Regions from separate parts of the Homo sapiens genome. Here all the other regions are linked to region 2. The links come from fine-mapping of genetic effects on gene expression. A gene starts in region 2. Each other region holds a variant in brackets. All regions are shown on one strand. Distances are from middle to middle. Region 1 holds the start of PEBP4 (phosphatidylethanolamine binding protein 4). Region 2 holds the start of TNFRSF10B (TNF receptor superfamily member 10b). Region 3 overlaps TNFRSF10D (TNF receptor superfamily member 10d).

Evidence for each region. PIP is the estimated chance that this variant, and not a neighbour inherited with it, causes the effect. A credible set is the group of variants that fine-mapping cannot tell apart.
Region 1: its variant is the best candidate, but not a certain one, in a credible set for the expression of TNFRSF10B in skeletal muscle (GTEx, PIP 0.86).
Region 3: its variant is the best candidate, but not a certain one, in a credible set for the expression of TNFRSF10B in whole blood (INTERVAL, PIP 0.71).

Annotation. Positions count from the first base shown.
Region 1 is chr8:22,918,901-22,929,093 of GRCh38, reverse strand. PEBP4 (phosphatidylethanolamine binding protein 4) reads left to right here and starts at 1,180. Exons shown (of 7, transcript NM_144962.3): 1 at 1,180-1,271; 2 at 1,374-1,510; 3 at 8,784-8,910. The coding sequence starts at 1,380. RefSeq lists an enhancer at 8,620-9,548. The variant G/C (reference allele first, on the strand shown) is at 6,322.
Region 2 is chr8:23,063,568-23,073,760 of GRCh38, reverse strand. TNFRSF10B (TNF receptor superfamily member 10b) reads left to right here and starts at 4,730. Exons shown (of 9, transcript NM_003842.5): 1 at 4,730-5,010. The coding sequence starts at 4,867. It also overlaps the pseudogene TNFRSF10B-AS1. RefSeq lists enhancers at 2,410-2,909, 3,231-3,525, 4,307-4,476, 4,497-4,546, 5,087-5,346 and 1 more, a cis regulatory region at 4,740-4,745 and promoters at 4,200-4,870, 3,638-7,351.
Region 3 is chr8:23,126,124-23,136,316 of GRCh38, reverse strand. TNFRSF10D (TNF receptor superfamily member 10d) reads left to right here. Exons shown (of 9, transcript NM_003840.5): 9 at 1-729. Among named protein-coding and RNA genes, the nearest start is that of TNFRSF10C, 28 kb to the right of the region's middle. RefSeq lists a silencer at 6,436-6,505. The variant C/T (reference allele first, on the strand shown) is at 5,669.

The DNA.
Region 1 (10,193 bases), 140 kb after region 2:
TTGTGAGGAGGCTACTATTAGACTCTGTCCACTAGGGGAGATCTTGGGAATATGTTTTCTGGTTGGGGCAAGGGGGAGTCCTGGTTGTACTTCAGAGAACCTAATGATTGAGAAATGTGTTTAATATGTAGCCCCTAAGGGGGGCTTTTTGCTACAGGTTGGGATCCTGGAGGCAGGAATTGAGCCAGAAAGCAGACTATGCTGAAAGTAGTTTCTCTAAAGGTCTAGCTGCGTGTACTTTACAGCGATGATCTCATATTCCTTAGCAAGGCACCACGGTGACAGGAATTATTTTACTTGTTTGTGAAAAGGAAAAGTGGTGCATTCTAGGGAGACACAGTGGCCTCCCAGCATCCAGAGAGAGCTCAGAGCAGAAGCCAGGAGTCCTGAGTTGCTGGCACGTCTCTCCCACCCCCGCCTCTGAGAAGCAGAGAGCAGAGCTATTGGAAAGCCTGTTGCAAGCCGCCTTTATTCTTCTCCCTGCCCACTCAGGCTCAAACCAGAGTCCCACATGCACCTGGTGGCAGGACTGTTCCCCAAGGGAATGCAGGCGACAGTCCCCGGCTCCCCTTCCTCCCAGTGCACTGCTGGGGCAGGCCACCCCTTTCTGAGCCCCAAGCAGCTCCCCAGACCTCCTTCTCCAGATACGATTATTTTGGGAGAGTGCTGAGTGCAGCACAGCTGCAAGGTGCACCCAGACGCACCCTTCTGTCCTCAGCTGGCCCTTCGGAGCTGGCCCTTCGGAGCTGGCCTCGGTCTGGGGTGCACCTACCCCCACCCCCTGCAGCAGTCCCTCCTACACAAGGTCACTGTGTCCAACCACCTCCACCTTGGGGAAGCTCACAGGCTGTGGAGACAGGTGGTGGAAGAATGGGGGCCAGGAGAGTCAGAGCCGGTCTGAGGGGCACAGCCCAACTCCTAGCCCTGAGCCTGGGGTCACCAGCTTCCCAGGGCTTGCCTTACAGCCAAGGAGCAGGCTGGCCTTTGGCCAGCTGACCATCCCTGGGCCAACAGCAGGGACTGGACAAGGAGCTGCACCGAGGAGCTTATATAAGCACTTCTACTTTGCAGCCTGCTCTCTGCCCTGGCAGCCAGGACAAGAGTGACAACAAAGCTGTGTCCTGCCAGGGGAGGGGCCTCTGCCAGGAACGTACATTGAGTCCAACTTGGAAGAGGCCCAGTCCTCCCAAAGTACTTGTGTCCGGGTGGTGGACTGGATTAGCTGCGGAGCCCTGGAAGCTGCCTGTCCTTCTCCCTGTGCTTAACCAGAGGTCTCTATCCTGCCAAGTGGGCCCCTGGGGTCGGGGGCACAGGTAGTGGGCAGGAAGGCCCCTGCAGGGGATCCAGCCGCTCTAAAGTTCTTTCTGTTCCAGGTGCCCATGGGTTGGACAATGAGGCTGGTCACAGCAGCACTGTTACTGGGTCTCATGATGGTGGTCACTGGAGACGAGGATGAGAACAGCCCGTGTGCCCATGAGGCCCTCTTGGACGAGGACACCCTCTTTTGCCAGTAAGTCAGGGCAGGCTTGGAGGCGGGAGGCACAGAGGCTACCAGGCAGGTAGATGGCAGGGAGGGGTATATCCAGAACCAAGAAGCACCATCTCCTGAGCCTGATTTTATGGGAAGGCAGAACACGTGTCAGATCTGGAGACCACCTTGATGGAGGATGGCACTGAGAAAGGGATTTAGAAACAGACTCCTTCCTGCCTTCCAGAATGCACCTCTCCCAGGACCAGGAGGGCTGTGTATGTGGTCGGCTCTGCTTGGGCCCTCCAAACCTGGGGGGTCTTTGTGGGGGCAGGAGGCTGAGACCCTCAGAGAGAGACCCAGAGAGAGACCATCCCTCCCTGCAGCCTGAATGCCCCCTCTCCCCAGAACCCCAACAAAGAGGCATTTGAATGAAAGAAGGTGTATGATTAGACCCTTCCTGTGTGAGAGGTTTTTGTCAGTGATAGGACCCAGGAGCGTTTGTGCAGGGCCCTTTAGGGATCATGGCACTGGATGGAGTTGGGTGACGAGGCTGGCTTCTTCCCTTCCAAGGGCACAAGCTGCTTCTACTTTGGGTAAGCTGGAAAGCCTGGCGTTCGGCTCTCTCCTCACCAACTCTGCCGGTTAGAAAAGCAAGCCTTCATTTGTGTGGACTTGTGGGTCATCCTGAGGACTCCCCAGGCCAAACTGATGCCAAACCTCCCTGCCAGTTTGGTGGCTGAGGAGGGGGACACCCCACTGAGCCCACGTGTGAGAAATGAGAGAGGAGGAAAAAGAACTTTGACTACTTACTCTCTTCTGTACCTTTGAATTTTCACAAACATTACTGTTCATGAAAATGTTTGTTTTTCTTTTTAATTTTATTTAAAACATTTTTGACAAACATTACTTTTAGAACCATAAATACATGTCTTCTCTTAAAATTATGTAGTTGAATCCTTCTTAAAAAGTAACATTTTTGTTGGGTGAAGTGGCTCACATGTGTAATCCCAGCACTTTGGGAGGCCAAGGTGGAGGATCACTTGAGCCCAGGGGTTTGAGACCAGCCTGGGCAACATAGAGAGACTCTTTTCTCTACAAAACAGTTTAAAAACTAGCCAAGCATGCTGATGCACACCTGTCGTCCCAGCTACTCAAGAGGTTGAGGTGGGAGGATCGCTTAAACCCAGGAGGTCAAGGCTGGTCTGAGCCATGATTGCGCCACTGCATTCCAGCCTGGGCAACAGAGCCAGACCCTGCCTAAACAACAACAACAACAACAACAAAAAGTAACAAACTTTGTTCGTGTCAGTATATTTTGAAAAATCTTGTTAAATAGTTCTGGGTGTAGGCTGGGCACGGTGGCTCACACCTGTAATCCCAAGACTTTGGGAGACTGAGGCAGGCAGATAACAAGGTCAGGAGTTTGAGACCAGCCTGACCAACACGGTGAAACCCTGTCTCTACTAAAAATAAAAAAAAATTAGCCGGGCATGGTGGCGCACACCTGTAATCCCAGCTACTCAGGAGGCTGAGGCAGGAGAATCCCTTGAATCTGGGAGGTGGAGGTTGCAGTGAGCCGAGATTGCGCCACTGCACTCTAGCCTGGGCGACAGACCAAGACTCTGTCTCAAAAAACAAACAAAAAAACAAACAAGCAAGAAAACAGTTCTGGGTGAAGTTTTCACGTGGAAGGAGGAAGAGAAACGTGGTTGCCTCTCACAAGTGGGATCTAATTTTCTAGGTGCTCTGCTGAGTGAGCTGAGGGGCTGGCAGGCTTCTCGCTCTGAGCAGTGCAAGGTCAACACCCCCGTAACCAGGAGAGGTCAGCTGGGCCAGGGTACAGCAGGCCTGGGCCACAATAAGGGCCCCTTAAGGAGGACCTCAGCAGTTCCTGGTGTTTCCCACACTGTGGGAAATGAGGATGTCTGTAGGGTCATTGGGGGTGACCAGCCTGAGGCTCCAGATGCCCTAGGCTCTGCCCTGCCAAGATCACATGTTGGTGCCCTGGTGACCCATGCATGGGGACACACGTGGGAAGTCCCAGGGCACCTTCTGTGTGCCAGGTGCTCTGCCGGTGCCTGGACTCCTTGACTCCTTTCACTGTCAGTAACGAACCTACAAAGTCTGTGTTAGCACCCCCATTCTGCAGATGAAGAATCCCCAGAGATTAAGAAATCTGCCCACAGTGTTTACATAGCTTAAAAGTAGCAGAGCCAAGATCTAGCCCCCTTGTCTGACTCCACACTCACGCTCTTTCCCTATCTGCTTCTGACAACCTTCACCCCAGGTTCAGGGCTCCCAGACTCGAGTCAAGGGGGCCCATTCTCAGGACTCCCAGAATACACCAGCAGGCCCCCAGTCTGAGAAAGAGACTTATGACCTTAAGGTTGCATGCCAGGAAGATGTCTTTTGATTTCAAGCCATCATCGCAAAAGAGGAGCTTTGTCTTTATTGTCACTGAAGATTTTTGTTTGGAAGAGAGCATCATGAATGATGATGAAATGAAAAATGCATCAAGGACAGATCGGACCCCTGAGGAGACAGCAGGACCTCCTGCACTGACCCCTCCTCAAGATCCCCACTCGGCTCAGGCTCTGACCTTGGCAAGAGATCCCCCAGAGAAGGCACTCCTCTTGTGGGCATTTGGTCTACCAGGGAACTCTTAAAGATTGGACTCAATGCCTAAAGGTATTAATCTATAAGGGAGGAATTTTATGTACTGTGACAAGCTGTGAGACATTGTTAAGAGTAACGCTTCTCGGGAATCAGACCTTCCCTGCTTCTGAGATACCCCAGACAAGACCAGCAAAACCACCGACGGTCCCAACCCTGGGCTCAGTCGCAGAATGGAAAGAACCATGATTCTCCAAACCTGCAGCCAGGAGGTGAATCCACTCAAAAAACCCCACCTGCTGCTGCCATCCAGTCAGCCCTGCAAGCTCCCCTAGGGATGGGAGCTGCTGCTCAAAGCGTCCTGCTTTTTGGTGTTGAAAAGCTCCGTTCTTCAGAAAGTACATTCTTACCCCGAGGCCCTGCTGCTCTTCTTGAACACCAACCCTACCTGTTGTAGTGCGGATCCACGAGGTGCACAAACTAGTCTAGTTTCTCATCTTCTTTGTGGTCATTCATGTGTGTGGTGACAGGTGCCATGCCCTGCCCTGCCCCTTCATCCCCAGCTCCCCCCAACCTGGGCAGTCATCCCCAGTCCTTCAACCTCTCTCAGGGGCCTTGGTCTCTCCTGTTTAAATACATTTCTTTTAGAGACAGAGTCTTGTCTGTCACTTAGGCTGGAGTGCAGTGGCCTGATCATAGCTCACTGCAGCCTTGAACACCTGGGCTCAAGCAATCCTCCTGCCTCAACGTCCTGAGTAGCTGGGACTACAGGTGCACGCCACCACACCTGGCTAAGTTTCTTATTTTTTGTAGAGTTGGGAGTCTCGGTATGTAGTCCAGGCTGTTCTCAAACTCCTGGGCTCAAGCAATCCTGCTGCCTCAGCCTCCCAAAGTGCCGGTATTACAGGCATGCACTGCCATACCTGGCTTGCTGTTTTTCAAGTGGGGTGACCCACACTTTCACAGTGAGCCCCCTCTTCGAGGCAGCCTCATATCCCATGTGTCTTTTTGTCATCCTCACTGTCTTAGTCTGTTCAGCTACCATAACAAAATACCTTAGACTAGGTCATTTCTAAACAGCAGGAATGTATTACTCACAACTCTGGAGGCTGAGAAGCGCCAAAATCAAGGTGCTAGTGGATTCAGTGTGCGGTACAAGGTTGCTCTCTGCTTCAAAGATGGCACCTTCTTGCTGCGACTTCACATGGGGGAAGGGAAGGGCAGCTCCCTTCAGCCTCTCTTATGAGGGTGCCTTTTATAAGGGTGACTTAATCACCTCTTCCAAGTCCCGCTTGTTAATACCATCATATTGAGGATTAAATTCCAACATATAAATTTTGAGGAGACACAAACACTCAGACCATAGCACTCACTGAGGGGCAGCTGAAATTCTAAGCCCTTCATACAGGCACAGCTGAGAAGCCACGTTTCTAGAGACAGGGTCTCAGTGCATCACCCTCTGTCACCCAGGCTGGAATGTAGAAGCAGGATCATGGCTCACTGCAACCTTGACCTCCCAGACTCAAGCGATCCTCCCACCTCAGCCTCCCATATAGCTGGACTACAGATGCGTACCACCACACTTGGCTAATTTTTTCTATGTTTTATAGAGACAGGATCTCACTACGTTGCCCAGGCTGGCCTCTAACTCCTGGGCTCAAGTGATCATCTCACCTCAGCCTCCCAAAGTGCTGGGATTACAGGCTTGAGCCACCACGCCCAGCCCTTGTGATCTAATTCTTGCCATGACAGAGACCCACATGACCACCTAGCTCAAACTGAAGCCTGGAGGAATGAAACAGCTCACTAGGGAAAACGTGTGGTGCGGGGAAGAAAGTGCAGCCAAGCCCACAGTACTAGTTCTCTGTTGTACACAACAGATCACTCCAACACGTAGCAGCTGCAAATAGGTATTGTCCAACAGTTTCTCAGTTACTCATCTGGAGATAGGAATAGTGATAACAGCTGCCTCAAGGTATGGTTGCATGAAATGAAATCATACATATGTGATGTCCCCGATATATTGGGGTGGCCCAGTAAAAGTCATGCCCTTCATCCCCAGTCCCTTATGTAGCATTAGTTCATGGCAAAGCTGGGGCCAGGGCCCCTGATCTTTTCACTCCACTGTCTAGAGTGCCTTCAAGTCTTGTCAAGGAGATCAGGAGATCCCCAAACTCTCCACATGGAAATTAGAAGAATTCCATGTCAGGTAAACCACAAGCAGCAAGGGCACACAG[G/C]AAGGTGGCACCTTTGAGGTTTTCTGGCTTGAATGCAAGTTGTTTTTGAGATAGGGTCTTGCTCTGTCACCCAGGCTGGAGTGCGGTGATGCAATCATGGCTCACTGCAGCTTCTACCTCCTGGGCTCAAGTGATCCTCCCAAGTAGCTGGGAACACAGGCAGGCACTACCATGGTGTTTTTTTTTTGTTTGTTTGTTTTTTTAATTTTTGGTAGAAACAGGGTCTCACTATGTTGCCTAGGCTGGTCTCAGATTCCTGGGCTCAAGTGATGCTCCCACCCCAGCCTCCCAAAGAGCTGAGATTATAGGCATGAGCCACCGTGCCTAGTCTTGAATGCAAAATTTAAAGTGTATTTTCTCAGTAACTTTAATTTTTGATTCAGCTCACCTCAGGTTTGTCCAGGTCGTCTCGTAAGTCAATTTGATCATCAGAATTGTTGGTTACCAGCTCTGTGCCATCTGCAGATCAAATAAATTTGTCTCCGTGTCCTTCTCCAAGACTTTGCTAAAGCAGCTGAGCAGGGCAGAGGCCTGCACATGCCCCTTTCCCATCATCCTAGGTGGGGCAATACGCTATGTTCAAACGCTGGCCTGGCAGTGCCCTATGGGCGTGAAGAGAGGGACAGAGACAAGACCCAAATCCCTGGTTCCCTGGCATGTGCCCTGTCCTTCAGGGCACTCTCTGTGGCTCTGTGCCCACCTCATCAAATAACAATTTGATGATTTTGCTTGTTTAATCCTTTTGATATTTACAACAATTCCACTCTGATAAAAAGGGGAGAGGGGTTATGGGCGTGAGGGCGTCCCTCCACCCTCAGTTTACCTCCTCCCTACCTCTCAGTTTTCCCATCCTGTGCTGTTTGCTGTCTGTCTCTCTGCCCTTGGTGGGTCCCCTCTCTGCCTCGCATCTCGCTAGCTGCGGCAGCAAGGAGTTGCAGCAGAAACAAACCAAACGGTCCTTAAGATGATGCTAGGAAGATAAAACTGGTCACCTAAAACTTCTCCAAAAGCTGTGAAAATCTTGCCATCCACCAAGAATTGCTGTAAATGCGCAAAGAGTTAGAAGAAACAAACTTGCTCAGCAAGCCCATGACTCATCCGGCTTCCACTCTCTGAGACCAGAGCATGTGACTTCTGGCACTGGGGGCGCTGGCCCACCGAAGTGTCCTGGTCCGGGGCTGCCAGGTGCTGGGGGCTCAGCGGCCTTTTGCCCAAGGCTGGACTTCAGGAGCCACTGGAAGGGTGGGAGGTGGAAGGTGGGAGGGGCAATGCAGGGTTCCCCACCAGGAAGCTGCTCTTGGCCTACTCCCAGGCCCCAGGTTCAGGGAGCTCCCTTTCCAGATCTATTCTCCAAATTACATCCTCACAGGGTCCCCTTAGATATCACCCCCAGCAAGGCACTGTGGACCGCTGTGGGTGGCTACCGGCAGGCTGTAGAGCGGCTTAGCCCTGCAAGGTGTTAGGAAAGGCTGGGGACCTGCAACACCCACTCTCTACCCACACCCTTTCTCTCTCAGTGATGTCTTAACCCTCGTTAACCCTACAGAGGACTTAGGTCATGGAGATAAATTATAATAGAAGGGCAAGCAAAAACAGTTTTAAAAAATGTCTTTGAAAAATCTTACCTGTGTTCCTGAGTGTCAAATATAAGCATGCACTTACAGCCAGCCTGGTGCTGTCATGGCCCAGCCCGGCCTGCCCTGCCCTGCAGGCTCTGTTGCCTTGCTCTGCATCATATTTTCTTCCCTTCCAGGAAGCCACATTCTTAGAACCCTGGTGCTGTTCGGGCCCTTCTTCTCAGGGAGCAAATACATGAACTGGTTCATTCATACTGACAGTCTTAGTGAGCCAGTGTTTTACCCCCTGAGGGATGTTTGCATTTTGAAAGAGAACCTAGGCTACAGTCAATGCTTAACCCAAAGAAGCCAATTCTTCACCTAATGGTGGGATTTCAGGCATGGGGAGCTCTTGATTGTTTAGGGGAGAGAGAAGGTCTATGCCCTTGAAGGAAGCTGTGCTGACTTGCTAAGCTTTTCTTTCTGTAATAAGAATGTTCCTGAAAAGCAATCTATAGGTATTGTTTTTATAAACTCAATCCTACTTTAAAGACACTAAGTTTGCCTAAGGATATCTGTTCTTCTAGGGAAGTAAAGGCTGATGATAATTAATATTATACTTTCTGATGACTTACAACGTGCCAGGTTCTGTTCTGACCATTGACCGCCACTTTTCTTCTCACACTGACTCCATGAGGGAGGAATTATTAGTGTCTTCGTTTTACAGGTGAGGAAACTGAGGCACAAGGAGGTCAAGTAACTCTTCGGTCACACAACTAGTTAGTGGCAGGTTTAGGATTTGATCCCATTTCACTTTACATTCCCAATAGTGCTAGACTGAAGCCTTGGGAACCCCAGGCTCCCTTAAAACCCTGACACAGGGCAACCTCCCCTCTCTCTTCATAGGGGCCTTGAAGTTTTCTACCCAGAGTTGGGGAACATTGGCTGCAAGGTTGTTCCTGATTGTAACAACTACAGACAGAAGATCACCTCCTGGATGGAGCCGATAGTCAAGTTCCCGGGGGCCGTGGACGTGAGTGAGCAGGGCTGTGTTAAAGCGGGGGGACAGTTGGGGGTCTTGATGTTCCTCCAGGCTTGCTCATCTGGGTGACTTGAAGCTGCGTGCAGAGCCATCTGGGTTGGGTCTGGTGGCTGCAGATGGCTGTTGCCATAAAGTTGTGCCTTCCTTAGAGTGGACTTGAGGAGAAGGCTGGGGGCTGGTGGGAGGGCTGCAGACTGGAAACTTTGGTGATGGTTGAGGCCATTCTGCCCAGGCCTTTTCCTGCTCCCCTGCTCTGGGAGCTCCTTGGCTGCCCCTGAGATCTGGGACCCCAAGCCTGGTGGAGACCAGCTGGTGTGTGCTTTGGAGTTGGCAGATAAGTGGAAGAAGGCGTGGTATGGGAGGAGTCCTCTCTCAAGGCGCGGGGTGCCTGGGCCTTCAGATGGCTTCTGGGCTGGAGAGAAGCTGGTATTTACCAAGACAGAGCTTCCCAAGTTGCCTAAACAGGCAGAGGTCAGTGCATCTTGACGCTTTGTTGTCACAACATGAGACACGCTCTTCTTTTGCCCAAAGTTGTGTAAAAGAAGAACAAAGCATTTTAGGAACTGGAAATAACTATTTTACTGGGCAGTGATTAGTGCTATTACATTTAGGGGTCTGGAAAGCCTGGGGAAGAGTCATAGAAGTGGGAAATGGGTCTGCTGCTGCCCTAAGCAGCCAGAGTGTGTTTTGGGGAAGCTGATCTGGCCTTCTGGTCTCCGCTTCTTTATTTCTTGACTCCTGGGCCAGACTGAGCCCGCAGAGTGTCAATGGTGGAGACTGGCCTCTTTTCTGCTGTGTTTTAGAAGGAGGTGCTGCTGTCAATCTAGGCAGGACTTGGGTCACAAATGCCTGGAGATGGAAGGGTCGTGGCCGGGATGTGACCAAGCACACACACCAAGGCTGACCTTCTGGTCCTTTCTGTGCAGGGTGGCAGGGAAGGGCCACAAGGGGTTCTTCCTTCCCCTCAGTGCTGCCTTGGTTAGGCCTCATGCAGTCAGCTAAGCCCAGTAGGACAACAAGCTCCAGAGGGCGGCAGCACACAAGTTACTCCAATGCGGGGAATAGACTCTTCTCTTTGAAGTGTTTTTCACTATCAGAGAGCAAATAGATTGTGATATGGCTCGCAAGTTATGAGGCTGTTGTCATGAAGCTTTGCTAGGTTGTCTTGTTTGCAAACACGACAAACACCCTTTCCTTTGGGAAGACGAGCAATAAAGTGCACACGTGCACATGTGTGCACATGTGCACACACACACTTGCATGCACACCCATGT
Region 2 (10,193 bases):
TTGTGTAACGAACTTGCACATTCTGCGCATGTATTTCAGAACTTAAAGTAAAAATAAAATAATAAAGTAGGCCGGGCGTGGTGGCTCACGCCTGTAATCCCAGCACTTTGGGAGGCCGAGGCAGGTGGATCACAAGGTCAGGAGATAGAGACCAGCCTGGCTAACATGGTGAAACCCTGTCTCTACTAAAAATACAAAATTTAGCCGGGTGTGGTGGCGGGCACCTGTAGTCCCAGCTACTTGGGAGGCTGAGGCAGGAGAATGGCGTGAACCCAGGAGGCGGAGCTTGCAGTGAGCTAAGATCATGCCACTGCACTCCAGACTGGGCGACACAGCAAGACTCTGTCTCCAAAAAATTAAAAAAAAAATAATAAAGTATTCAGGGATAAAGAGAGAAAAATAAATTTAGATTGTATACATATGTAAAATATATTTTAAAAGGTAAGCTTGTCTTTTTTATTCCTTAAAGGAGCAGATATTAAAAAAAAAAGAATAGAATAACTCATCTTTTTAGCCTCCACATATTTACTTGCTTCTTCCCAAGTTACTTGGTCTAATTCAGTATATAAGTAACTGACTCTCACTGCTTTTTCTGTGCCATGTAAAACTTGCATTGTATTAATTTGTGTGCTTTTCTCCTGTGGACCTGTCTTATGTCAACTTAATTCTCAGGCCCAGCCAAAAAAAAAATACCCTTAAAGGGAGCTTAGCTTGCCTCCATGACCCTCAATGGTGGCTGTAATCAAACCACATCTTCCAGGCAAACAATACCACATCCTATGGCCTTGCAATGGCATGGCCTCCCTCCAGCACAGCCTCTCTGGAGGAGGGGGAGGCAAGGGTGGTGAGATCTCAGGCCTCCCTCATGCTACCTCCTATTAGTTATATGACCCCTGGTGTCACCTCTCCCACCACACTGTAGGCTCCAGGGAGTAGGATTCACATGGGGTTCATTTGTCCTCCCTGCCTTCAGCAGACTCCAGGCACAGGTGTTCCCAGAGTAAAGGGCTCACTGTCTGCTTCCTGGGTGAATCATTCTCCCCGCAAACCCATGAGGTGAGTGCAGTCGTGGCTTCAGCTCACCGCCTGACAGGCTCCAGGCTGTAGCACAGGGAGGGCCCTGTGGACTCTGCTGAGGAACCATACGAGCTCCCAGAGGCCAAGTGCAGGACAGAGAATAGAGAAGCAGCTGCTCAGAGAACTCTAGCCCTGTAGAGGTGCAAATATGGCTGCTATTATACAGAAGGTGAGGCCAAAAATGCTGGAGACACTGCTCCTGAATCTCAGTTTTGCCACTTGTAAAACAGGGAAAACAACCTACTCTCATGTCCCCAGGTTGTTAGGAAAATCCACTACATGAAGATGTGCAGTCTCTGGCTGGGAGCAGGACACCAGCTGCCCAACAGCACAGGCTCAGGGCATGGCACTGTCTCCACTGTCCCCATCCCCAACCTGGAAGCTAGAGCCTCGCTGCCCTGCCACTTCTGGATGCAGGACAGAGAACCGGAACTGGGACTGTGGTCTCTCAGTAGAGGCTGTGAACAGCCATCTGTGGCCACACGGATTGAGACCTTTCCTGCTCACTCTTCAAACTGGGGCACCGGCTGGGTGCCCAACAGAAAGACAATTGGAAGAGTGGCAGGTAAACCAGGCTGTGGCCCTGCAGTGCCATCACCGTCCTCATTTGAATTCTGGCTCGTCTGTTCCTCTACGGCCCCTCCGCATGGCGCTCCACCCCAGTCTTCAGAAATTTCTGCCTCAAGCTCAGGGAGCTGGTACTGAGGTACAGGTAGGAGAAGGTGCAGCCTCTGCTGAGTGGAGGACATGTGCCCTGGGGATCCAGAGTCTAGAGTGACTGACACCAGCCCTGCAATTTGTCCTCCTAGACCTGTTAACAGAGCCTGCAGAAGTTTACACAGGGCTGCTGAAGATTTTTATCCCCTCATTTTACAGGAAGGAGCTGGGGCCATACCAGAGTCAGAGCTGGACCGGGAGCACGGCAGGGCCCAGCCATCCACAGCCTCCAATTTCAGTACTCTCTAACAACCTGAGAGCCTGAGCCTTCGGATCTTCTTGATTCCTACTTTGATAAAGAGAGGGATGGGGTTGGAAGGACCTGGCATAGAGATTGGACCAGTCCGGCATTGACAGAGCCAGGACCTGGGGTCCGGAACTGAGCTCAGCTCCAGGCTCATCTGAAGTCACCCTGACAGCCTGAGGATGGAGACCTTATTTCCATTAACAGGCATGGCGGTTGGCAGGGACTGGCCCCAGCTGAGCACGGTTTTCCAAGTACACAGCTGGGAATTAAGTCTTCTCTGCCGCCCTCCCCTGTAGTCTTGCCTGGATCCCCCCAGTCATCTACTCCCAGTACCAAAAACTCCTGTATTCTTGAAAATCCGTAGTACTGAGAGGTGACAGCTTGCTGGCAGTCCTCAACAGCCCTCGCTCGCTCTCGGCGCCTCCTCTGCCTGGGCTCCCACTTTGGCGGCACTTGAGGAGCCCTTCAGCCCACCGCTGCACTGTGGGAGCCCTTTTCTGGGCTGGCCAAGGCTGGAGCCCGCTCCCTCAGCTTGCACGGAGGTGTGGAGGGAGAGGCGCGAGCGGGAACCGGGGCTGCGCGCGCGGCACTTGCGGGCCAGCTGGAGTTCCGGGTGGGCGTGGGCTCGGCGGGCCCTGCACTCGGAGCAGCCGGCCGGCCCTGCCGGCCCCGGGCAATGAGGGGTTTAGCACCCGGGCCAGCGGCTGCGGAGGGTGTACTGGGTCCCCCAGCAGTGCCGGCCCACTGGCGCTGCGCTTGATTTCTCGCCGGGCCTTAGCTGCCTTCCCGACGGGCAGGGCTCGGGACCGCCATGCCTGAGCCTCTCACCCCCTCCGTGGGCTCCTGTGCAGCCGGAGCCTCCCCGACGAGCACCTCCCCCTGCTCCAGGGCGCCCAGTCCCATCGACCACCCAAGGGCTGAGGAGTGCGGGCGCACGGCGCGGGAGCACGGCGCGGGACTGGCAGGCAGCTCCACCTGCAACCCCGGTGCGGGATCCACTGGGTGACGACACCTGGGCTCCTGAGTCTGGTGGGGACGTGGAGAACCTTTATGTTTAGCTAAGGGATTGTAAATACACCAATTGGCACTGTGTATCTAGCTCAAGTTTTGTAAACACACCAATCAGCACCGTGTGTCTAGCTCAGGGTTTGTGAATGCACCAATTGACACTCTGTATCTAGCTAGTCTGGTGGGGCCTTGGAGAACCTTTGTGTCCACACTCTGTATCTAGCTAATCTGGTGGGGAAGTGGAGAACATTTGTGTCTAGCTCAGGGATTGTAAACCACCAATCAGCGCCCTGTCAAAACAGACCACTCCGCTCTACCAATCAGCAGGGTGTGGGTGGGGCCAGATAAGAGAATAAAAGCAGGCTGCCAGAGCCAGCAGTGGTAACACTGTGGAAGCTTCCTTCTTTCCCTCTGCAATAAATCTTGCTACTGCTCACTCTTTGGGTCCACACTGCCTTTATGAGCTGTAACACTCACCTTGAAGGTCTGCAGCTTCACTCTTGAAGCCAGCGAGACCACGAGCCCACCAGGAGGAAAGAACAACTCCAGACCCACTGCCTTAAGAGCTGTAACACTCACTGGGAAGGTCTGCAGCTTCACTCCTGAGCCAGTGAGACCACGAACCCACCAGAAGGAAGAAACTCCGAACACATCCGAACATCAGAAGGAACAAACTCCAGACACGCCGCCTTTAAGAACTGTAACACTCACCGCGAGGGTCCGAGGCTTCATTCTTGAAGGCAGTGAGACCAAGAACCCACCAATTCCGGACACAGTACCATGAAGGAATGAAAATACATAACAATGTGATGTATCATGTTTTATTTCCTAGACTAGTGACAAATGAAAGCTAAGTGTAGCAAGGGTGCAGGGACACAGGCACATTTGTGGACTAGGTGTGAGTGTAAGCTGGGTTCGATGGTCTTTTGGCCAACATAGTGAACCCCTGTGTCTACTAAAAATACAAAAATTAGCCAGGCGTGGTGGTGCAGGCCTGTAGTCCCAGCTACATGGGAGGCTGAGGTGGGAGTATCGCTTGAACCTGGGAGACGGAAGTTGCAGTGAGCCGGGATCACACCACCGCTCACCAATCTGAGCCACAGAGAGACTGTCTCAAAAAATAAACCACAAGGAAGGGAGGTAGGGGGAGGGGGAGGGAGGGAGGAAAGAGAAAGAGAGAAAGGAAGGAAAGAGAAAGCAGGAAGGACGGAAAGAAGACGAAAGAACGAAAGAAAACGAAAGAAAAAAGGAAAGAAGAGAGAAGGAGAGAACAGAAGGGGCAGGTGCCCCTGGGAAGGGGAGAAGATCAAGACGCGCCTGGAAAGCGGACTCTGAACCTCAAGACCCTGTTCACAGCCAAGCGCGCGACCCCGGGAGGCGTCAACTCCCCAAGTGCCTCCCTCAACTCATTTCCCCCAAGTTTCGGTGCCTGTCCTGGCGCGGACAGGACCCAGAAACAAACCACAGCCCGGGGCGCAGCCGCCAGGGCGAAGGTTAGTTCCGGTCCCTTCCCCTCCCCTCCCCACTTGGACGCGCTTGCGGAGGATTGCGTTGACGAGACTCTTATTTATTGTCACCAACCTGTGGTGGAATTTGCAGTTGCACATTGGATCTGATTCGCCCCGCCCCGAATGACGCCTGCCCGGAGGCAGTGAAAGTACAGCCGCGCCGCCCCAAGTCAGCCTGGACACATAAATCAGCACGCGGCCGGAGAACCCCGCAATCTCTGCGCCCACAAAATACACCGACGATGCCCGATCTACTTTAAGGGCTGAAACCCACGGGCCTGAGAGACTATAAGAGCGTTCCCTACCGCCATGGAACAACGGGGACAGAACGCCCCGGCCGCTTCGGGGGCCCGGAAAAGGCACGGCCCAGGACCCAGGGAGGCGCGGGGAGCCAGGCCTGGGCCCCGGGTCCCCAAGACCCTTGTGCTCGTTGTCGCCGCGGTCCTGCTGTTGGTGAGTCCCCGCCGCGGTCCCTGGCTGGGGAAGAGCGTGCCTGGCGCCTGGAGAGGGCAGGGAGAGAGGGGGACACGGCGGGGGTGCGTGGCCCGGGTCGCCTGCGGCCGGGCATGTCCGGGCAAGACGCACCAGTCGTCGGAGTCGGGGGAAGAGATGGGTCCCCGGGTTGGGCAGGAGCGACCTGGGCCGCCAGGGAACAGAGCGCGCGCTCCACTTGGTGTAAATTCCCGAATCCAGTGGGGGAGGGCGACAAGGAGGGAATTCCCGAGTAAGCTGCGTGAAGCCACGGAGAGGTCGTCGGACTTTGATTTTGTTTTCTTTCCTTACTTTCTGTTTCTTTCTCTTTTTCTCTTTCTTCCTTTCTTTCCCTCCCTTCCTTCCTCGCTCAGTTCCTGCCTTAATTTCTTTTTCTTTTGCGCCTTCGAATGAATTCCTAAAGGCGCTCATTGCAGATCGCTTTGAACCTGCGGCCGGCGAAGAACTCCCCTGTGGTCGCTGCGGCCCAGTGGTTCCGTTCCGTGCGCGGGAGTCGTCGCGGGCGCAGCTGGAGAGGCCCCTTCCCCTCCTTAGCGGCTGCGCCCCTACGCGTGCGGGGCCGCTCATCGCCAATGCCATTGTTTGGGGTTCCTTGGGAAAACGAGATTTAGGAGAAGGGAGTTGTGGCACTTGGGGCCTGACCTGCTTGATAATAGCAGCTGCATTTTGGCCTGGGAAGAGCCTTTCTTGCCACCTCTTGGCAAGTATCCGTGATAATGGGGAAGGGACAAAGAGTCGGCTTTGTAGGGAACAGCATGGTGTGCTCAGCGCCTGGAACTGCGCTTGGGGCCAGGAGAGGTTCTGAATCATCACATTTTACAGAGGAAGAGACCGCAGCTCAGAGTGGGGAAGTGTGTGGGCCTAGACCTAACTCAAGACTGTACAGAGGGGCTGGAAGGGAGAGGAGGAACAGTGAAAGGAAGGTCAAGAGAATGCTGGTGTTGACCTAGAAGAATGTCAGTGTGAAGCATTGGAGTTTCATGGGATATTGTTACACACCTCATGTTTTCACTGTTTCCGCCCCACACCACAGTATGTCCTTGGTCTCACCTCTGAGTGGAGGGAGGACCTAACTGTCCTAGTGAGGAGAGTGTACAGGGGCCTCTGCCTCCCCCTCCTGCTGTGGTTTCTGTGGGCCTAGGTCCCCAGGGCATCTTGCCTCTCTTTGGGTGGTGGATCTTTGGTCTCTGGCTGCTTTTAAAGATTTTTCTTAGCACTGGTTTGCAGTGATTTGGTTTGTTTGCTCTGTTGTGGGGTTTTTTTTTTATCTCTATAAAGAATTTTTTGGATTTTTGGCTTTAGACTTTCATGTTCTTTCTACTTGGAAGATTTTTCTGTAAAGAAAGCCACAACTGGGTTGTGTTGAATTTCTTGGATTTGGGGTTTTAGAGTTTATGTTCTCCTTGGAGACTTTTCTGTAAAGAAAGCCACAACAGCCGGGTCTGGTAGCTCATGCCTGTAATCCCAGCACTTTGGGAGGCCGAGGCGGGCAGATCACATGAGGTCAGGGATTCGAGACCAGCCTGACCAACATGGTGAAACCCCGTCTCTACTAAAAATACAAAATTAGCTGGGTGTGGTGGTGGGCACCTGCAATCCCAGCTACTTGGGAGGTTGAGGCAGGAGAATCACTTGAACCTGGGAGGCAGAAGTTGCAGTGAGCAGAGATGGCGCCACTGCACTCCAGCCTGGGAGACAAGAGCAAGACTCCAACTCAAAAAAAAGAAAGAAAGAAAGCCACAACAGAGTTATGTTGAATTTCTTGGATTTGGGGTTTTAGAGTTTATGTTTTTGTTTGTTTGTTTGTTTGTTTTGAGATGGAGTCTTGCCTCTGTCGCCTAGGCTGGAGTGCAGTGGTGGGATCTCAGCTCACTGCAACCTCTGCCTCCTGGGTTCACGCCATTCTCCTGCCTCAGCATCCCGTGTAGCTGGGACTACAGGCATGCACCACCACGCCCAGCGAACTTTTTGTATTTTTAGTAGAGACGGGGTTTCACCGTGTTAGCCAGGATGGTCTGGCTCGTGATCTGCCCGCCTCAGCCTCCCAAAATGCTGGGATTACAGGGGTGAGCCACCACGCCCAGCCGAGTTTATGTTCTACTTGGAAGATTTTCAGCCATTATTTCTTCAAATACTCTGTCTCTTCTGGTGACTGAGATCTTATTATATTTACGTTAGAATGTTAGATTTTGTATCAGAGCTAACTTAGTATCTGTTCTTTTTTTTCCCCCATCATTTTCTATGTTTCACTTTGGACATTTCCCTGTGAGGGCTCTTCAAGTTCATTGATCTGCTTCTGCAGAATCTAACCTGCTGTTAATCTCATCTACTGTATATCAGATATATATTTTTTGAACTTTAGAAGTTCTCTTTTGGCATTTTTAATATCTTCCATCTATTTCCTGGTCATCTTTGTGTTTTTCTTTTTTGAGACAGGGTCTTACTCTGTCACCCAGGCTGGAGTGCAGTGGCACAGTCAGAGTTCACTGCAGCCTCAACCTCTTGGGCTCAAGTGATCCTCCCACCTCGGCCTCCCAAGTAGCTGGGACCACAGGCACTTGCAACCACACCTGGCTAATTTTTGTATTTTTAGTAGAGACGGGGTTTCACCATGTTGCCCAGGCTGGTCTCAAACTCCTGCGCTCAAGGAATCCTCCCACCTTGTCCTCCCAAAGTATTGGGATTACAGGCCTGAGCCACCGTGCGCAACCTATGATTTTGGTGGTGGTGTTTTTTGTTTTTCTGTTTTTTAAATATTCTTGAGTATATTTGTAAGCTTTAGATGACCTGTTTTAAGTTATTTAATCTATCAACACCATTATATCTGTTATTACGGCCACTGTTTCTGTTGATTACATTTTTTTTCCTGCCCATAGGGACTTTTTTTTTCATGCATAGTAATTTCTTATTGCTTGACATTGTGAATTTTGCTTTCTTGGGTACCGAACATCACTGTGTTCTTTCAAAGTCTATTGGGCATTATTCTGGTCACAGAAAACTGAGGATCAGTTTGCTCCTCTGATACTAGCTTTTATCTACATATAACTATATACCTTGTGTTCAGTTGCCTTATTCAGGGGCTCATTTAGTTAACTACTAAAGTTATAGTGGTTGACTTCTGATGGTAACTCGCCAGCACCCTGGCATGCGTTCTGTCCACTGTGGGAAGGGGAACATGCAGATCTCCCAGCCCTGAGTGGTCCACAATCTAGTCTCTCCTTCCCTGGGTGGCTTCTTCTCAGGCACCTAGAGTCAGTCTCAGCAGACACTGGACATGTCTTCTGCAAGGATCCAGAGTCCTCCAGGCAGCTGCTTCTCCCAGTCTCTGCCCTGCACTTGGCCTCTGGGAGTTCCTGCCTGTGGTTCTCAACAGAGACTACAGAGCTCTACAGGGTCCTCTGCCCCTGCTGTAGCTGGAGGCTGTCCTTACGCAGTGAGCTGAGGCCACAGCTAGTCTCACTGCATGTGCTTGGCGGCGGGGACAGGAGTGATTCATTCATCAGGTAGAGGAGGAACCCTTTACTCTGGGAAAATCTGTGCCTGGGTTGGGGAAGGACAAATGAGCCCTGTGTGAATACTGACTACTCCCTGGAGCCCACAGTCTGGTGGAGCAGGTGACAGCAGGGACCTAAATAACTATCAGGAAGCATGAGGTCCCACCACTGTCACCTCCCCCACCTCCAGAGTGGCTGTGCTGGCTCCAGAGATGTCATCCCTCCATATTTGACTGACAGAGGGAGGCTGTGCAGTCCCAAGGCTCCAGGTCATGGTAGTTTGGCCAGGATAATATGGTTTGCTTAAAATCAACATTGAGGGTAATGATCGTACTAATCAGAGCATGTGTTTAAAGTTCTGTGTTTTAAGCACTTTCCATACATATTAACACTTTCAGTTCACACAACAACCTATGCAGGAACTGTGATTATCCTGGGCAGTTTTAAGGATGTGGGTGACTCAGAGAGGAAAGAAGAGGTTACTCGGGTTAATTTTTGACGAGAAATATTAGCAGGTTTTATGCTCAAACTTGGTGTAAAGCAAGGAGCCTGAATCACAGGTGGGTGAGTCACAAGACAGGGAAACCCCGCCAATGGCTCATGTCCGGGAGGAGGCAGGGTCCCTAGAATTCAATGGGACAAGAACTGAAATAAGCCAAACCCCTGACCTCCCTTCTTCTTGTTTTCCTTCTCTCTCTTAACCATGCCCATGGACACCCCCATGAGCCCATTTCTGTGGCCCAACACAGCTGTGCATCTCTGGCCACACGCCCATTCTCCCTCAATCAGAGAGGCCCACGGACGGCACAGCCTCGTCCTGCACAGCAGAAAGAGTGAATGGTGATGAATGGATCTATATTATTTCAACTCTCCTACATTTTGTAATCATATTACAATATTAATTCAGCAGTACCTCTCTTGTTTTTACTCCCCTCCCCCATTACACTGGATTCCTGTCTGTCTGGGATTCTGTCTGTGTGCACTCTTTCCTCTATGTCCACTACTGTCCCTGCCACCGATGGCATTTGTCACCTCTGCCTGGGCAGCCCCTCCAGACTCTTTGCAAGTTCATGGACTTTGGGGTTAATGATGGCTGTGCCTCAGCTCCTGTGAATGGAAACTGTGCTAAGGAAAGGAAGGGCCGTGCCATGTTCCCGATACTCCACGGCTCCTTGCATATGCGGTCGCCAGGCGCCTACATGCCTTCCATGAATGAATGAATGAGTAACGTGGATTCTAGGAAGCTGCACTAACCCAGACGTTGTGTCCTCAGCCTGCTCATAGAGTGTGTTAAACGTGAGAGGTGGGGAGTGTGGCAGGCAGGCTGAGGACAGAACAGAGGATCTGAATAGAGTACGGAGGATCACCCAAGTCCAGAGTCACCAAGGCCATTGTCAAGTTTTCCCCGGGGACATCCCTCATCAGATCCACCCATTAAAGATCATTGTTCACCCAGTGGAGAGTGGACTAGGTGGGTGCACTCAGGTGTGGCCTGGACAGCATTCGGGATGGGTCCTAGTGGTTAGGGTGAGGGTCAGGTTGCATTATCGTGAAGGAGGCAAGTGGCAGCTGAGGCAGATCTGAGGGAAATGATGATAACGCAGGCCGGTGATGCAATGGGTTTGGTAAGAAGAGGAAAGAGGTTTGTGG
Region 3 (10,193 bases), 63 kb before region 2:
AGAGATATCAATTCTTAAACACTGTGACAACAGGATCTAAAATGGCTGACACATTTGTCCTTGTGTCACGTTCCATTATTTTATTTAAAAACCTCAGTAATCGTTTTAGCTTCTTTCCAGCAAACTCTTCTCCACAGTAGCCCAGTCGTGGTAGGATAAATTACGGATATAGTCATTCTAGGGGTTTCAGTCTTTTCCATCTCAAGGCATTGTGTGTTTTGTTCCGGGACTGGTTTGGCTGGGACAAAGTTAGAACTGCCTGAAGTTCGCACATTCAGATTGTTGTGTCCATGGAGTTTTAGGAGGGGATGGCCTTTCCGGTCTTCGCACTTCCATCCTCTCCCACTTCCATCTGGCGTCCCACACCTTGTCCCCTGCACTTCTGGATGACACAGGGTGCTGCTGCCTCCTAGTCTTTGCCTTTGCTGGGCCTTCTGTGCAGGAGACTTGGTCTCAAAGCTCAGAGAGAGCCAGTCCGGTCCCAGCTCCTTTGTCCCTTCCTCAGAGGCCTTCCTTGAAGATGCATCTAGACTACCAGCCTTATCAGTGTTTAAGCTTATTCCTTTAACATAAGCTTCCTGACAACATGAAATTGTTGGGGTTTTTTGGCGTTGGTTGATTTGTTTAGGTTTTGCTTTATACCCGGGCCAAATAGCACATAACACCTGGTTATATATGAAATACTCATATGTTTATGACCAAAATAAATATGAAACCTCATATTAAAAAGGTGTGGTGTTCGTTTATTTCCATCCTCCTCTCCTGCTGTGACACAGCTCTGAGTGACAGGAGGCCAGGGCTTCGTTCCTGCTGGGCCTCCTTACTTGTCCCTTCTCTGCCTTCAGGCTTGGCCCGCCTGGCGGTGGGGGTGTGGGGGGAGTTTCCTGCCTATGACTCCCTGGATTTTAAAGGACCAGGTTCTTGGCTACTGGAATTCGCGCCTCCTCCCTGTTTCTCTCCTGTCTGCTCCTCCCTCTGGGGAGAGGGACAGCAGCCCTTCCCTGTATCCCCATCAGTGGACCCAGGTTGCTCAGCCCTGCAGGCACCTGTGAGAGCCATTTCCCACTCCCCTTGCGCTGGAGGACCTGCTCTCCCTCTGGCCCACAGCTCCCAGGAGGCCCAGGCGTGCTCCCATGCTGTCTGCCTTCCCTAGAGGGGAGGTGGGGCTGCGGCTGCTCCATGCTACCTCCTGCTTCCCGCCTGCACTGCCCATGGCCTCACTTGGAACCCTGGGCTGGGTGAGCTGCATGGAGGCTGAGCATGGAGGGGCCTGGGCTTGGGCAACATGGCTTCCCCCAGAGTTAGAGCTGCTTGTGTTGCCACCGCCTACTGTCTATGAGGATTTAACCCCTGATCTCCAAGTCTTGGCGCCACACAGCCATGGCAGGGGTTGTCTTTGTTTCAAGTTTGCTCTATCCCAGACCTAACCAGCGTTTTCCTGGAGCCCACCCCATGGCCAGGCCCTCTCAGCTAGAACATCTTTCTCAGGCAAGGTGACTCCTGAGCTCTGAGCCCAGAGCCCCACTGCCTCCTGGCTCTGCCCTTCCTCCGTGGGACTGCATCTTTTACATCTAAGAAGGATGTGGGCAGTGAAATTTGGGTCAGGGTTAGAAAACAGAAAGGGGCAATTGTGGCCCAGCCTTTGCCCCTTGGGGGCTGGGAGCTACCATTTCCATCCTCCACATTCCTCCAGCCCGGCTCTCCTCCTCTCTGGACCAACCCTGCCTTTCCTCCTTCTCCATTCTCCCTCTTCTTCTTCCCTTTATCCCACCCAGCAGTAAATAAGTGTCACAGGGGAGAGACCAGTATCTGGCCCAGTGGCGCAGAGGTAACAGATTTTACCAAGACAGTTGTAGGTAAAGAAAAGCAGATTTATGGCTGGGCACGGTGGCTCACGCCTGTAATCCAAGCACTTTGGGAGGGTGAGTCGGGTGGATTACTCAAGGTCAGGAGTTGAAGACCAACCTGGCCAACATGGTGAAACCCTGTCTCTAACAGAAGATACAAAAATTAGCCAGGAGTGGTGGCATGTGCCTGTAATCCCAGCTACTCGGGAGGCTGAGACAGGAGAACTGCTTGAACCCAGAAGGGGAGGTTGCAGTGATCTGAGATCACACCATTGCACTCCCACCTGGGCAGCAAGAGCAAAACTCCATCTTAAAAAAAAAAAAAAAGCAGATTTATTAGAGAAAGTAGGAAAATGTGTAGCAAGGAGGCAATGGGCAAGCCAGCAGAAGAGGAGCTGACTGCAAAGTAACAAAGGCTTACTGGAGATTTTATAGGCTAGTGTTTATGCCAACTGTTGAAGAGGGCTTTGTGCAGTACTGGTAAGCCAAGGTTGCAGTGAGCCGACTTGCAGGTGTCTGATGATAGCTGAGTGCGGGAAGATTGTGAGTTATTTGCACAGGAGGGCTTTGTGTCCTGGACCACGAAGAAAGGCAGATTTATGTAAACCGTGAAAATCTGAGACAGATCTCAGTTAATTTAGAAAGTTTATTTTGGCAAGGTTGAGAATGCATGCCCTTGACATAGCCCCAGGAGGTTTTGATGACATGTGTCCAAGGTGGTCAGAGCACAGTTTGGTGTTTTGTTTGTTTTGTTTTGTTTTGTTTTTGAGACAGAGTCTTGCTCTGTCACCAGGCTGGAGTGCAGTGGTGTGATCTTGGCTTACTGCAACCTCCACCTCCCAGGTTCAAGCTTCTGCCTCAGCCTCCTGAGTAGCTGGGATTATAGGCGCCAGCCACCATGCCTGGCTGATTTTTGTACTTTTAGTAGAGATGGTTTTTCGCCATATTGGTCAGGCTGGTCTCAAACTCCTGACCTCAGGTGATCCATCCACCTTGGCCTCCCACAGTGCTGGGATTACAGGTGTGAGCCGCCACACCCAGCTGGTTTTATACATTTTAGGGAGAACATGAGACATCAATCAACATATGTAAGATGAACATTGGTTCAGTCCAGAATAGGTGGGTTAACTGGAAGCAAAAGCAGGACAACTCCAAGCGGGGAGGGGGCTTCCAGCTCATAGGTAGATAAGAGACAAATAGTTACATTCTTTTGAGTTTCTGATTAGCCTTTTCAAAGGTGGCAATCAGATGTGCATTTATCTCAGTGAGCAGAGGGTGAATTTGAATAGAATGAGAGGCAGGTTTACCCTAAGAAGTTTTCAGTTTTGACTTTTCCCTTTAGCTAAGTGATTTGGGGCCCCCAAGATTTACTTTCCTTTCACGCTTACCTGCTTTCTCTTTTTGCTTTCCCCTGCTCCCACCAGTCTGGCTCACTTTCCCTAATTAGGACTCCACAATAAGGCTCTGTGTCCTATGGCCTTTCATTACAAGAGACTTATTCTCTAGGCCAGTGCTCCTTTCCCTGACCTTTGACTCCAATCTGGTTCTCTCCCAACACACACCCTGGGCACCCCATGGAATGCCCCTCTGAAGGTGAGGATGGGAGTCTACAGTCTCAAGATGGACTTAGAGCCAGAAGTTTGTGTATGTATTTGAAAAGAAATCTTGGACAACTTTCTGACCAAGTTCATAAGGTAGCTTCCTGAAAGAAATAGAATTACTGTGTTAATGTCCAGAGGCATTTTTTTCTGCACACACACACACACACACACACACACACACACACACAAACACACTCACACCCATGTGCACACCACATACACATGCACAGTTTTGGTTCCAACAACACTTCATTAGTCTTGAGCTGATGTGCTTGCTCTTTCGTTTTTGTTTTCTCAAACTAGGAAGAAATTAATTAACTTAAATATGCATTTCTTTATTTTTGGACTTAGGTGTCACATGTTTATTAGCTGTTTGATTCTCTTTTCAAACTGATAACTTACAACTTTTATCCTGCCTATTGAGATACGGGTCCCTACCCATGCACTTTCTCAGATGCAGATAATAGGTTTCTACTTTCTTGTTTGCAATTTTATTTGGTCAAAGATTTCCATGTGCAGAATTTTTAATGTTAAGAAGCTTAATCTATTGATATGTCTATTTTGTCATTGATTATAATCTTATGAAAGTCCCCTCCTGGACAAAAGGTAATGTAAACTTCTTTAGTTTTTTTTTTTTTTTTTTTTTGAGATAGGGTCTTACTCTCTCACCCAGGCTGGAGCACAGGGCTCACTGCAGCCTCAACCTCCTGGGCTCAAGCTTCCTGCTTCTGTCAAGGGTTTATCCTTCTATTTTATTCTTTGTAGTCATCATGAATAGGATTGTCTTATAGTTATGCCATTTCTCATTAGACCAATAGAATCCTAAATCCTCTTCTCCCACCCTTTTCTCCTCCCCCTACTGTATCCGACCTTGTCCCCTAACAACACCCTACACCGATCTGTCTTTCCCTTCCTCTTTCACCTTCCCTCCTGGCTGTAGTTCAGGGCCTATATCAGGTAGAGGGCCTCCTGAGGGCCTGCGGAGTCCTGCATGACAGGCACTGGCCCCCGGATTCCTGAGCACTGGAGCTGAGGCTAACCTGAATTTGATGAGCAATTTGATTGCCCTGTTTCAAGAATTTAGTGTACTAGGCCGGGCACTGTAGCTCATGCCTGTAATCCTAGCACTTTGGGAGGCAGAGGTAGGGAGTTCAAGACCAGCCCGACCAACATGGAGAAACTTGGTGTCTACTAAAAATACAAAATTAGCCAGGCGTGATAGTGCATGCCTGTAATCCCAGCTACTTGGGAGGCTGAGGTAGGAGAATCACTTAAACCCCGGAGGAGGAGATTGCGGTGAGCTGAAATCGCCCCATTGCACTGTAGCCTGGCCAACAAGAGCGAAACTCTGTCTCAAAAACAAAACAAAACAAAACAAAACAAAATTTAGGCCGGGTGCGGTGGCTCACACCTGTAATCCCAGCACTTTGGGAGGCTGAGGCAGGCGGATCACAAGGTCAGGAGATTGAGACCATTCTGTCTAACATGGTGAAACCCTGTCTCTACTAAAAATACAAAAACAAAATTAGCTGGGGGTGGTGCCGGGCGCCCGTAGTCCCAGCTACTTGGGAGGCTGAGGCAGGAGAATGGCATGAACCCGGGAGGTGGAGCTTGCCGTGAGCCGAGATCGCGCCACTGCACTCCAGCCTGGGCGACAGAGGGAGACTGTGTCTCAAAAAAAAAAAGAATTTAGTGTACTAAAGAATGTAAAATGTTTCATTAATACTTTATTGTGCATTAATTACATGTTGAAATGAGAAAAGTTTGGTTATATTACATTGAATAAAATGTCATGAACATTAATGTCGTGTACTTCTTTCATGAGGATATTAGAAAATATAAATTTGTGTCTTGGCACAGTGGCTCATGCCTGTAATCCCAGCACTTTGGGAGGCCAAGACAGGCAGATCACGAGGTCAAAATATCAAGACCATCCTGGCCAACATGGTGAAACTCCATCTCTACTAAAAATACAAAAATTAGCTTGGCATGATGGTGTATGCCCGTAGTCCGAGCTACTCAGGAGGCTGAGGCAGGAGAATCACTTGAACCAGGAGGTGGAGGTTGCAGTGAGCCGAGATTGAACCACTGCACTCTAGCCTGGTGATGGAATGAGACTCCGTCTTAAAAAACAAAAAAACAAAAAAAAACCCAGAAAATATAAATTTGTATTCCTGACTCACCTTATATATCATCGGGTAGTGTATGTAGTACATTTCA[C/T]ACACATCTCATTTAATCCTCCTTATAGTCCCTGAGCTGGTAATTCTTGCTCCATTATACAAGGTAAATTATCCCTCAGAGTCTGTTTCCCCCCACCTAGCTCTGCACAGTACCCATGAGTGAAGCTAAGTTAGGTTTAAAACCAGGAAAACCAGGTTTTTGTCATCAGCAAGATAATTCTACAGGAGGCTCTCCACTTTTCCTCTCTTTGTGGAAGCACCAAATAAACATCTACACATGAATCAGTTTTATCTGAGAGAAACCCAGAAACTAGTGGAGAGACTCCTACACATGGGGAACTGAGAAAACTCCACATTGAAATGGGCAGGAAAAGCTGGGACACATTCACACACAAACACCACCCCGTGTACACTGCTGCGCATCAGGAGAAAACTCCCAACCCCCAGCTTCTCCCCCGAGGAGTCAAGTGCTTAGGCCACCCATATAGTACCCCAACTTTTACAGTTCCCCTGGAGGGTTTAGCTTTTACATTACCTAGATGTGGGAGCGACAGACACCTTTCCTGCTCACTCTTCAAACTGCAACCTGGGCAGGGCACCCACCAGAAGGACAACTGGAAATATGGCAGGTAAACCAGGCTGTGGCCCTGTAGTGCCATCGCTGTCCTCACTTGCAGTCTGGCACCTCTGTTCCTCCATGGCCCCTCCCCATGGCACTCCAACCTAGTCTTTAGAAGCTTCTGCCCCAAGCTGAGGGAGCCGGTACTGAGGCGCAGGTAGGAGCAGGTGCAGCTTCTGCTGGGTGGAGGACATGTGCCCTGGGAATCCAGTCCAGAGTGACTGACACAAGCCCTGAGGATGTGGTTTGTCCTCCCACACAACCTCACACTGCCAACACAGTCCACTGCGGTTTATACAGGCCCTCTGCATAAATAAGGCCTCTCTGTCTTATTTTACAAGAAGGAGCTGGGCCACACCAGAGTCACAGAGTTGAAGAGGAGCACCGCCAACCCTGGCCGTCTTTAGCCTCCAATCTCTGGGCTCTTTGACAGCCTGAGTGTCTAAGCTTCTGAGCCTTCAGAATTTCTCAGTTCTCACTTTGATAGACAGAGGGGCGGGGTGGAAGGACCTGGTACAGAGATTGGACCAGCCCAGCACTGACAGAGCGAGGACCTGGGGTCAGGAACTGAGTTCAGCTCCAGACTCATTTGAGGTCATCCTGACAGCTTGAGGACAGAGACCTTATCTCCATTCACAGCCATGGCAGGTGGTGGGGACTGGCCCCAGCTGACCACGGTTTTCCAAGTGCACAGCTGGGAATTCAGTCTTCCCTGCCACCCTCCTCTGCCATCTCATCTGAGGTCTGCGGATCATTTACACTCAGTCTCAGAAAACTCCCGGACCCTGGAAAATCCTCAAATAATGCTGAGAAATCAAAACCACAACAGTGAGATGCACCATTGTTTACTTGTTAGACTAGCAAAGAATGAAAGTTCAGAGTAGCAAGGGTGTAGGACTCTTGGTGTGAGAGTAAACTTGTTGTAATTTTCTTTTGGAGGACAATTTGTCAAAATCTAAACAAAATTTTTAAATCATTAACTCATCGACTCCGCAATTCTGCTTTTAAGTAGTGCACATGACTATCTGGATATGTGATACCTACAAGATGATTGCTGTTAGAATTTTCAAAAACAAATGCAACTACCCACAGAAGGCAACAGTAGAATGGACCATAGTTCCACTATGAAAGAAGCTACTATGCTTTTGTTAAAAAGAATGAGACAAATGAATGTATTGACCAAAACATCTAATATAATATATTAGCTTCAAAGTTTGGTTTTTTTTTGAGATGGAGTCTTGCTCTGTCACCCAGGCTGGAGTGCAGTGGTGTGATCCCGGCTCACTGCAAACTCTGCCTCCCGGGTTCACGCCATTCTCCTGCCTCAGCCTCCCGAGTAGCTAAGACTACAGGCACCCGCCACCACGCCCGGCTAATTTTTTGTATTTTTTAGTAAAGATGGGATTTCACCATGTTAGCCAGGATGGTCTCAATCTCCTGACTTCATGATCCACCCACCTCAGCCTCCCAAAGGGCTGGGATTACAGGCGTGAGCCACCGCGCCCGGCCTAGCTTCAGAGTTTTTAAAAAATAATTATGCCTGTAAATACATCTTTCTGCCAGTGTTTCCAAGGCATCCTGCAGGGTGTGGACCAAGGGGCCCCACCTGGTTTTGCTGACCCATCTCACTAGCATCCGTACAAGGCATTCCCAGGGATCGCTGCATCAGCTCTGGCCATGAGGATCTCATTGTCCATGAGGCTCGGCTGCCTCATGAGCGGGTTCCAGGAGTTAAAGGGTAGGATCTGTCCAAAGTTGTAGAAGCACAGCCTCTGAGCTGGGTGGAGAAAGCCATGTAGAGAGCCAGGTGAATTGGGACTCAGTTCAGAAAGGACAGAAGTTCCCACATTAGGCCCAGAACCCAAGGGGGGAACCTGGAGAGCCCCCTGCATGGATGAACCTACTGCTCCAGCGCCCACCTGCTTCCCATCCATAGAGAGCGCGCCCACACTGCCTGGCCTCCCTGACACCCAAGGCGCTGCAGGGAGTCAAGGTCATCAGAGAATCAGCCCTCACACAGGGCTGAGAACCCATCCAGTGAGGCTGAAAGCAAAGTGGGTGAGAGTCCGAGGGAGGGAGAGACAGTGGCTGCAGCAGGAGCTCAGAGGAGGGAGGAGGCTGCCTGGGCTGCGCTTGTCATGGGAGCAGGTCCCAGGGTGGCCACTTCTGCATCTGTGGAAACCGCAGGGTCTGTGGGGGGGATCTCTGTTTACACCCAGCTCAGCCTCATTCCCTGAGGCCGGGGCAGAGGTAGGTGGGGCAAACAGATCCTGAGCAATAAGTCACCCCAAGAGGGAGCAACCCCACCCAGATCTCAGGACTGCGAGGGTGCGAACCCAAAATATCTGAGACAGGTCTCAATCAAGTTAGAAAGTTTATTTTGTGGCCAGGCACAGTGGCTCCTGCCTATAATCGAACAATTTGGAAGGCCAAGGCCAGTGGATCACTTGAGGTCAGGGGTTTCAGACCACCCTGGCCAACTTGGCAAAACCGTGCCTCTACTAAAAATACAAAAATTAGTTGGGTGTGGTGGCACATGCCTGTAATCCCAGCTACTCGAGAGGCTGAGGCACAAGAATCTCTCGAACCTGGGAGACAGGGGTTACAGTGAGCGAAGACCCTGCCACTGCACTCCAACCTGGGTGACAAAGCGAGACCCTGTCTCAAAAATAAATACATAAATAAATAAAAATTTTTTAAAAGCTTATTTTGCCAAGGTTGAGGACACGCCCATGACACAGGCTCAGGAGGTCCCAACCAAAATGGTTGGGGTCAGCTTTCTGTTATACATTTAGGGAAAGATGGGATATTAATCAATATGTGTAAGATGTACATTGGTTCTGTCCAGAAGGGTGGGACAACCAGAAGTGGAGGCTTCTAGGTCATAGGTAGATAAGAGACAAAAGGTTGCATTCTTTTGGGTCTTTGATCAGCCTTTCACTGAATACACAGCTTATATGTAAAAGAGTAGAGGTGGAGGAATAGTCACTCATGCCTTAGTCTGGCTCAGTGAATCTGCATTTTTCATAAACAATAGGGCGGAGGAAGCAGTCAGATATGCATTTGTCTCAGGTGGACAGAGGGATGACTTTCTGTCCCACATGTGAAGATCAGCTATCAATTTACATTGCCAGAGTGAAATTCAGCAGAACTGTTTTAGGGTAAGGATCTTGAGGCCCACAAGGAATTCCCTCATGGGCGAATTGTGAGGGAGGTATGCAGCTTTTTAATCTTTGTAACTATCTTATTTAGGAATAAAATGGGAGGCAGGTTTGCCTGACAAAGTTCGCAGCTTGACTTTTCCCTTTGGCTTAGTGATTTTATGGTCCCAAGATTTATTTATTTTTCACATGGGATTCAATAAAATGTGTGTGCATCACACGGCACACCGCCTTCCTTAGAGAGAGAGAGGGCCAGGAATACGAGCTTATGTTTTGTACAGCCTCGTTTAAAGAATATAAAAAGAAACAAGTGACATTCACTGATATTCATTCACCTTTTTCATCTGAGACCCTTCAGCTTTTAGGTGTCTGTAAAAGACAGTGGGCCAGGCGCGGTGGCTCACTCCTGTAATCCCAGCACTTCGGGAGGCCAAGGTAGGTGGTCAAGGAGGCCAAGGTCAGGAGATCGAGACCATCCTGGCCAACATGGTGAAACCCTGTCTCTACTAAAAATACAAAAATTAGCTGGGCATGGTGGTGTGTGCCTATAATCCCAGCTACTAGGGAGGCTGAGGCAGGAGAATCGCTTGAACCAGGGAGTTGGAGGTTGTGGTGAGCGGAGATTGCGCCACTGCACTCCAGCCTGGTGACAGAGCGAGACTCCATCTCAACAAAAAAAAAAAAAAAAAAAAAAAGACAATGGAGAACCCCCTTGATCAGAGTCAGAAGTCGTGGATTCCAGTAGTGACCCTGAGAAGCCACCAGCTGTGGGACCTGGTTCATGT